2 linked regions of the Homo sapiens genome follow. The protein of the gene in region 2 interacts with the protein of the main gene of each other region in a pairwise test. Each region holds a gene or a part of one and is shown on either strand. Other genes may lie near its edges.

The links. The genes of interacting proteins can lie anywhere in the genome.
Region 1: the proteins of ERCC3 (region 2) and MSANTD2 interact in a two-hybrid assay, tested with the Homo sapiens proteins (one large-scale study listed by BioGRID and IntAct).

What each region holds. Positions count from the first base shown.
Region 1 is NC_000011.10:124,765,998-124,769,406, forward strand, and holds the end of MSANTD2 (myb/SANT-like DNA-binding domain-containing protein 2), read right to left. Parts: intron 2,032-3,409; coding exon 1,179-2,031; 3' UTR 501-1,178; downstream 1-500.
Region 2 is NC_000002.12:127,280,407-127,284,321, forward strand, and holds part of ERCC3 (general transcription and DNA repair factor IIH helicase/translocase subunit XPB), read right to left. Parts: intron 226-3,915; coding exon 41-225; intron 1-40. UniProt on the Homo sapiens protein: ATP-dependent 3'-5' DNA helicase/translocase. Binds dsDNA rather than ssDNA, unzipping it in a translocase rather than classical helicase activity. Component of the general transcription and DNA repair factor IIH (TFIIH) core complex.

The DNA.
Region 1 (3,409 bases), on a different chromosome or scaffold from region 2:
TGAGGCAGGAGGATTACTTGAGCCCAGGAGTTCGAGACTGCAGTGAGCTATGATTGTACTACTGCACTCCAGCCTGGGTGACAGAGCAAGACCCTGTCTTAAAAAAAAAAAAAAAAAAAAAATTTCTACTGGATCTTCCTTCCTTTTGAGAGATAGCAAGATTACATCAGTTTTCCAGTTGTACTCCTTGAGAGCTGCCCCTGAGTACTGAGTGTAAAAGATGAGGAATGAGTCTCTTACAAATTGATGTACTTAGGGTCAAAAGGATTATCCTAGTCATTTTTAGTCATTTTTCAAAGAATTACAAAATGAGATGTTCAGTGACCTTTGGTACTCTGACAGTAAATAATGACATTGGTCAGTGAGGTATAGAGAATGAAAGGATGTGAAGATACCCTGCTCTGTTTGTTCTCTTCATTCTTAGCAGTCAAGTCAGAGCGCAGCCCCCACTGCCAGTGCAGCCACACTCTGCTACAAAAAGCTCAACTAGTACGCCAAGGGGCCAGGAATTACTTTAATTTTTTTTTTTTAAAAAAAGGTTTAAATGGCAACACAACTGTAAAGTTGGTACATCACAGAAACAAAGGTCTTTGCAAGCAATACTGATTGGAAATAGCAAAACACTTGGCTGGTGAAAAAAATGAAAATCTAAATTATATACAATAGTAGCTAAGGGTGATATTGAAAAAGTCTTTTTAACTGTGAATCAAGATTTAACTTGCCATTATCTATTGCTTATTTATTCAGGGTTGTAAATATTACTTATATAGAGACATAGAGATGTGTAAAAATGAAACATTGTGAAAAAAATACAATTTTTCAATTTCATATGAAACTCAAAGTATAAGTTTTGTCCAATATGGAATGTACCTACATTTGTTTATATTAGGGCTCTAAAATCCATTTAAAAATTGTTTTTCTGTTTTTAAAAAAGAAATAGCTGACCCACCATGCAAGTTCGCTATATATCTTGCTTGCTCAAAATGAGCATTTTCAGGTGAGGTCTGTTTTTTCTGGCCCAAGTCTACTATGATTCCTTAGAAGTCGTACTGGCCCAATTGAAGAAAGGGTTTCCATGAAGAGTCTGACGGCGGCATCTGGATGAGGGGTGGTCCGGGTAATGGGAAGTGAGTAGAGAAGAAGGAGCTAAGAGCCCAAATCCTTATGAAGGATGACATTCAGTTGTTAAATTTTAAGGGGTATCCAATGGCTTTTTCCAGGCACTCAACTAAAGAGCCTGCGGAAAGAAAATCCCTCTCTACTTCTACAAATTTGATGTAGATGGATTTGGGGGAAACTCCGGGATCCACAATACAGTTCTGAGACAAAAACCCGTTAATACCAACCCAATCTTTGCTGAAGGTTTTGGTATTCGCTTGGAAATGTAAAAATAAGCACTGCTGTAGAGTCCTGACCTCAGCAATCCCGAGGTAGCAATAGATAATTCGGGTGGGTTCTATTTCCACCTGTAATGAGGCTTGTGCTGAAAGGGTTTCCAGGTCAACCCGGCCCTCTTTTCCTGGGTCCAGGGAACTTTGCTCCATGTGTGGTGAGAGGGGCCTCTCAATACATTCTTCATAGCCAATGGCATAAAGGCCTGGGCTTTTAGGAATACCCCCAGGCAATAAATATTGAACAACATTCCCACCAGTTGGTTTGGAGTGGGCAATGGGTATCCAGTCAATTTCCATGTGCAGCTCCAAGCACCTAGCTTCGCTAATAGTGATCTCTAAAAATTTGTAGTAAACATTTTTCCAGTTCATTTTCTGCACTCGGGTCATAATGATCCGTCCTTCAGGCTTCTCAGAGTTGAAGTACTCCCGAAGTCGCTTGCCAAGGGGCACCTGGGAGCTGATCTCAGCATAATGGTAACGGATATCCTCTTTCCAACGGGTGTTATAACCAATTCCAAAAATGGCCAGTTTATTAGAAAGATGGAGCCTTGAAAAGTCTGTCCAGCTCTGAAAAAGTTCCCATTTCAACTGTACCGATTCCAAAATCTGTACAATATTCTGCATGATGTCTCTCTTCCTGGAAAGACAAATAAAAGTCAAATTCCCTAAGTATCTAGAACAGCGGTGTCAGATAGAACTTTCTGTGATGATGGAAATGTTCTGTATCTGCTGCCCAATATGGTGGCCACTAGAACATGAAATGTGGCTGAGGTATTACATTTTTAATTATATTTAGTTTAAAATTACATTTAAATAGCCACATGTGACTAGCAGCTACTGTACTGGGCAGTGTAAGTCTAGACAATCAACCTATTAAAATGAAAAGAAACACACCCCTAGCAAGTTTCTAAGAATTAATGATAAACTGCTTTCCATGACTTCTACAGCCTCACTGTATAATCAGAATCAATACCTTAGACTCTAGGATTTCAGAAATCTATGGATCATAATATTTTAAAGTGGCTATTATGTCTATGATGGCCTTCAGACCTACCTACCTACCAAAATAAGGTGAAAAATGCTGTATTTAGAAAAGTATCTGGCGTCACTTAAAATAATTAACAGCTTAATTTCTAACCTGGAAATTCAGAAAGTCCAATAATGGGCTTTGTGTGTGCTGTGGGAAAATATACAACTGATTATGGCTAATGACCTTTTTAAAATGACATTTTCTATTTGTCTGAAATTCATTACTAATCCCAAAATTAATAGAAGTCAGGTTAGCACAGAATTAAGATCTGGGAATTCAGATGGAAAAGGCTCACATTAGGCTTAGATTTCAAGAGAGCAACATTCAAGATAATAAATTGAGACTGTTCTAGAAAACCCTTTATAAAGGGAAGCAAAAATATAGGAATTATTTCAATTTTGACTCATATACTTAACAGAAGAAGACAGAAAATGCTGGAATTTTTATTTCACGGGCTGCTTAAATCATGTAATTTGTATATATATGAAGCTATATAAAGTTTGCTTCTCAAGTACAGCAAAACTTTGATACTGGAAGATTGGTTCGTTAAATATTAACTTGGCAACAAACTACTACCCTCCACATCAATTACGGGTTTAACCTATAAAAACACTCAACTACCACACTTACATACAATCATACACAGGCAAGAAAGGGGGTGTGCGTGCTAACAGCTTCTTGAAAACGGGCTCTGGAAGGAGCTTGATCCTTGAGACTTTTCCTGCTACGTTCTCATACCTTCTAGGGGAGGAGCTTTGGGAACATTCTGGCGAGGCTTCACGTGGCCATTCTCAGTCTGTCCTCTCGCTCTCCTTGACTTTCTTTGCAAGATGGCAGAGAATTAATATTTTGTTATCAGCTGCTTCTTGGAGCTAAGACTGCCCTGAATTTACCCTCTATCCTTTAGTTTGTCTTGAAAGCTTTCAAGTATGAGAGTGGCTATCTAGATGAAATCACTACCTTCTCAGGGAATTATTCCTCTTCT
Region 2 (3,915 bases):
GAGGCCCTTTCCCAGACGCCCCCAGCCCAGGCCCAGCTACCTCAGCACACTGGACTTTGGCGATGTAGCCATTATTCTGCAGCTCCATCCAGTTGGCTTCGTAGAGCTTAGGCCCAATCAGAAAATTTAAATCCACAATTTTGTCATCTTCGCGGACGAGGGTCGCAGTCAAACCCAGCTTACAGTGGGCCTGCACGATGGTGAGCACCCTTCGGAACATCTTGGCTGAGGAAACAATGGGAGCATTCACACTGTCACTTTTCTTTCTTATTTTTTATTTATTTATTTTAAAATATTTTTTGTAGAGATGGGGTCTCATTATATTGCCCAGGCTGGTCTTGAACTCCTGGCCTCAAGCAATCCCCCTGCCTTCGCCTCCCAAAGTGCTGGGATTACAGACGTGACCCACTGCACCCAGCCTACACTGTCACTTTTTCAAATGCTCATAGCTGTGCAACTTAACACTGGCTTATGACACCACCTGAACTAACCCTTGGGTTTCAGGACCACAGAAGCTGGCTCTAGACAAGAATGACTAGGCAAATGCTTCACCATCACTTTTAGACCTGTCCAAAAGAAAATGAAAAGGAGAACAAGAGGGTGAAATGAGCTTAAGGAATCTCCAAGTTAATGAATCCCAGCATTCCCCTCACAACAGTTATCAGTAGAAGTACAGATGGCAATTTGAAATACAACCTGCAATACTTACTATTAATACCATTAAGCTCTAAATTACGCAAAGAATTTTCCCCTAACACTTGTACCCAGGTTACTGAAAAGAAAGTTGACAATCTAGGGAGAGGAAGAAATGAAAGAAGCCAGCTCTTCTCAGCTTCCCATCATTTTCCCAGAAACCGAGAAGAAAGCCAAGCCCACGGGAGTGATGAAACTCCAGGAACTGTTCGCCCAAGCCCTCCGGCCCGCCTTAGGAAACTCCCCTCTCCAAACTTTACCAATTCAATCACTTTGGTCAACCAGCAACCTCTTTTTCTTCCTTTCTTTTGAACATTATAATTCTCTCTGGTTTATCAAATAAAATAAACACATAAAGGGTATGAGTTATTCATTTTTAAAAAACCTAATTTATGGATTTCCACGGGCTCACCTTTTAAAAATTCTAATACTCTGAAGCAAGGTTAAAATGTTTGAGTCATGCTTATCTTACAATATAATTGAAAGTAGGGCTAATGATATTTCAGAAATAAATAGACACAAAAATCTAAGGAAAAAGAGGCCTGAATGCACCAAAACACAAAGACGTTCACAGTGAAATAACATAGGGTTGCCTAACTCTAAGTAAATGTTTAGTTTTTACATCTACATGGTTTGCACACAACACCACATGCAAACACACACACACAAACACACACACACACACACAACACAGAAAACAAAATCAGCTCAGGGTTATGTCTAAGGAAAGACTGTGCTGGCTCCAAAATACAGTAGCCAAGAACCTCAGACCAAGCTCCCCATGTTAGAGGGAAATGGTAGTCAAGGCAATGGCTACACCAACCCAGTGTGGGCCCCAGAGAGGCAACACTGGGGGACATACTGACCCAAGACAAGGATAAGGCAGGTAGGACTCTGCCTGGACACCCGTGACCCCATCACACCCCTCTATTACACTCTCCTACAGCCCTGACAGCTGTCACAGGTGAATAACTCACAGCATACTACTCAATATATTTTTACAGACATGCAGCTGTGGAACCACCTAGATCAGGATATAGAGAACCAGGCACCCAGAGGTCTCTCCCCTGACCCCTTCTGTCAATAACTAGCACTCTTCCTTGAGGGAAACACTCCTCTGACTTCTGAGAGGGGTCTGCCTCCTTTCTGAACTTTGCATGAATGAAATCATAGTATGCACTTTTGTGTGTGGCTTGTATCACTCAACATTATGTCATGGTTGTCATTTGGCATTTATTTGTGTGGTTACTTGGCTGTCCCTTCCACTTTGTCTCCAGTGCCAAGTACAGTGCCTAAACTTAGTAGGTTCTCAATAAATACCTGTAGAAATAATGAAACTGGCACAGTACCTAGCACACAGGAAGCACTTAATATACACAAGTACCATAATATGAATCATTAATAAAAAGGCATAACAGAGCTCCTTTTGAAAAATCTGTAAAACAGCACAGCAATCTTTATCCTTTGAGATAAATCTCAAAGATTGATCACTCCACCTAACCCAACACAGCAGACGTTAAGACAGTCAGGAGACTTACTGTGACTTCCTAGCATTCCCTTATTTAACATTTGCTCTCTGGGACAATGAGCATGGCCAGGCCACTGGGCTTATGGGGCCTGTACTCAAAAATCCCTTAGAGTTTGTTGGTTTCACTCCGCAACTCAACCAAAGACTAACTCATCCAGTGAACTAGACGAGAGACAGACAAACTCACAGACATATGTGAGTGTGAGATGCACCTTTTTGTACTTGTTCATCAGATAACCAATCCCAAATCTGTGCTGTTGTCCCCTGGAACCTGGGACCTGGGGCTTGGGTTAAAGAAAAACATGAACGTGTACCAAACATATAGTCAGACAGAATGCCTCAAGCCCTGAACACAGCTTCCAACCAAACTGCTACAGAACAATTCCAGACTCCTTTGTGGGTAGTGATTCTCTGTACCATCAATTTTCAATCCTAGCAGACCCAATACCCACCCTTCCACCTTTTTTCTTTTGAGTTTTTAAATTCTCACAGTAAAACTGACTTGGGGCGGGGGGTGGGGGGGGCACTTCTATGCATTTTAACATATTTACATTTTTGTAACCAGCACCACAATCAGGGTACAGATAAAGACAGCATCCCCCAAAATTCCCCTGTGCTCTCCTTTAGAGTCATCCATCTCTGACCCCCCACTTCTGGCAACCACTGATCTGCTGGCCAGCACTATACTGTCGTTGTATAAATGAAATCACATACTATGGAAGCTTTTGAGGCTGACTTCTTTCACTCAGCACCATGCTTTTGAGATTCATCCAGGTTGCAACATGCAGCAAGTTTGTTCTTTTTCACTACTGAGTAGTGTTCCAGTGTATGGATGTACCACAGCTTGTTTATCCAGACACCCACTGATGAGCACCTGGGTTTTGGATATTATGAACAGAGCTGCCATAAACATTCGTGTACAGGATTTTGTGTAAACCTCTTTTCATGTATCCAGGATACACAGGAATGGGACTGATGGGTCATGTGGTAATTTCATAATAAATGGACAAACTGTTTTCCACAGTGACCATACACTTTGCAATCCATCCCTCCAGGAATGTGTGACAGTTCAGTTGCTGTGACCTCATCAGCACCCGCACATCAGTATTTTTTATTTTGGCCCTTCTAACTGGCATATGGGAGCATCCTGTGGTGGGTTTAAATCTGCAGTTCCCTGATGACTAATGAGGTTGAACCCTTTTTCAAGTGCTTTTTTGACATATGTATATCCTTTTTTGGTGAAATGTCTATCAATTTCTTTGGCCTATTTCTTAACCTTTTTGCCATGGCCTGAATGCCTAACAGGAAACTCAAATTCACACATCTAAAGCCCAACTCCTGATAGTCACCTTCCAGACCAGCTCCTTTGAGAGTGTTCCCCATCTCAATTAATGCCCACTGTATCCTCCCTTTGTTCAAGCCAAAAACCTTAGTGTCATTCTTGATTTCTCTCTGATTCCACACCTGACCTGTCAATTAAAGCTTCACAACATATCCAGAGTCGGATCACGCCTTCATCCTTACTGGGATTCCACAAACTCACCTCACCGCTTCTGTCTTGCTTCCTTCAGTCTATTTCCAGCACAGCAGCCAGGGCAGTATTTTTACAGTGTAAAGTCAACTCATGTCATGCTCTGCTCAAATCCCTCAGATGGCTTCACACTAAGAGTACAAGCCAAAGTTCTTGTCGTGGC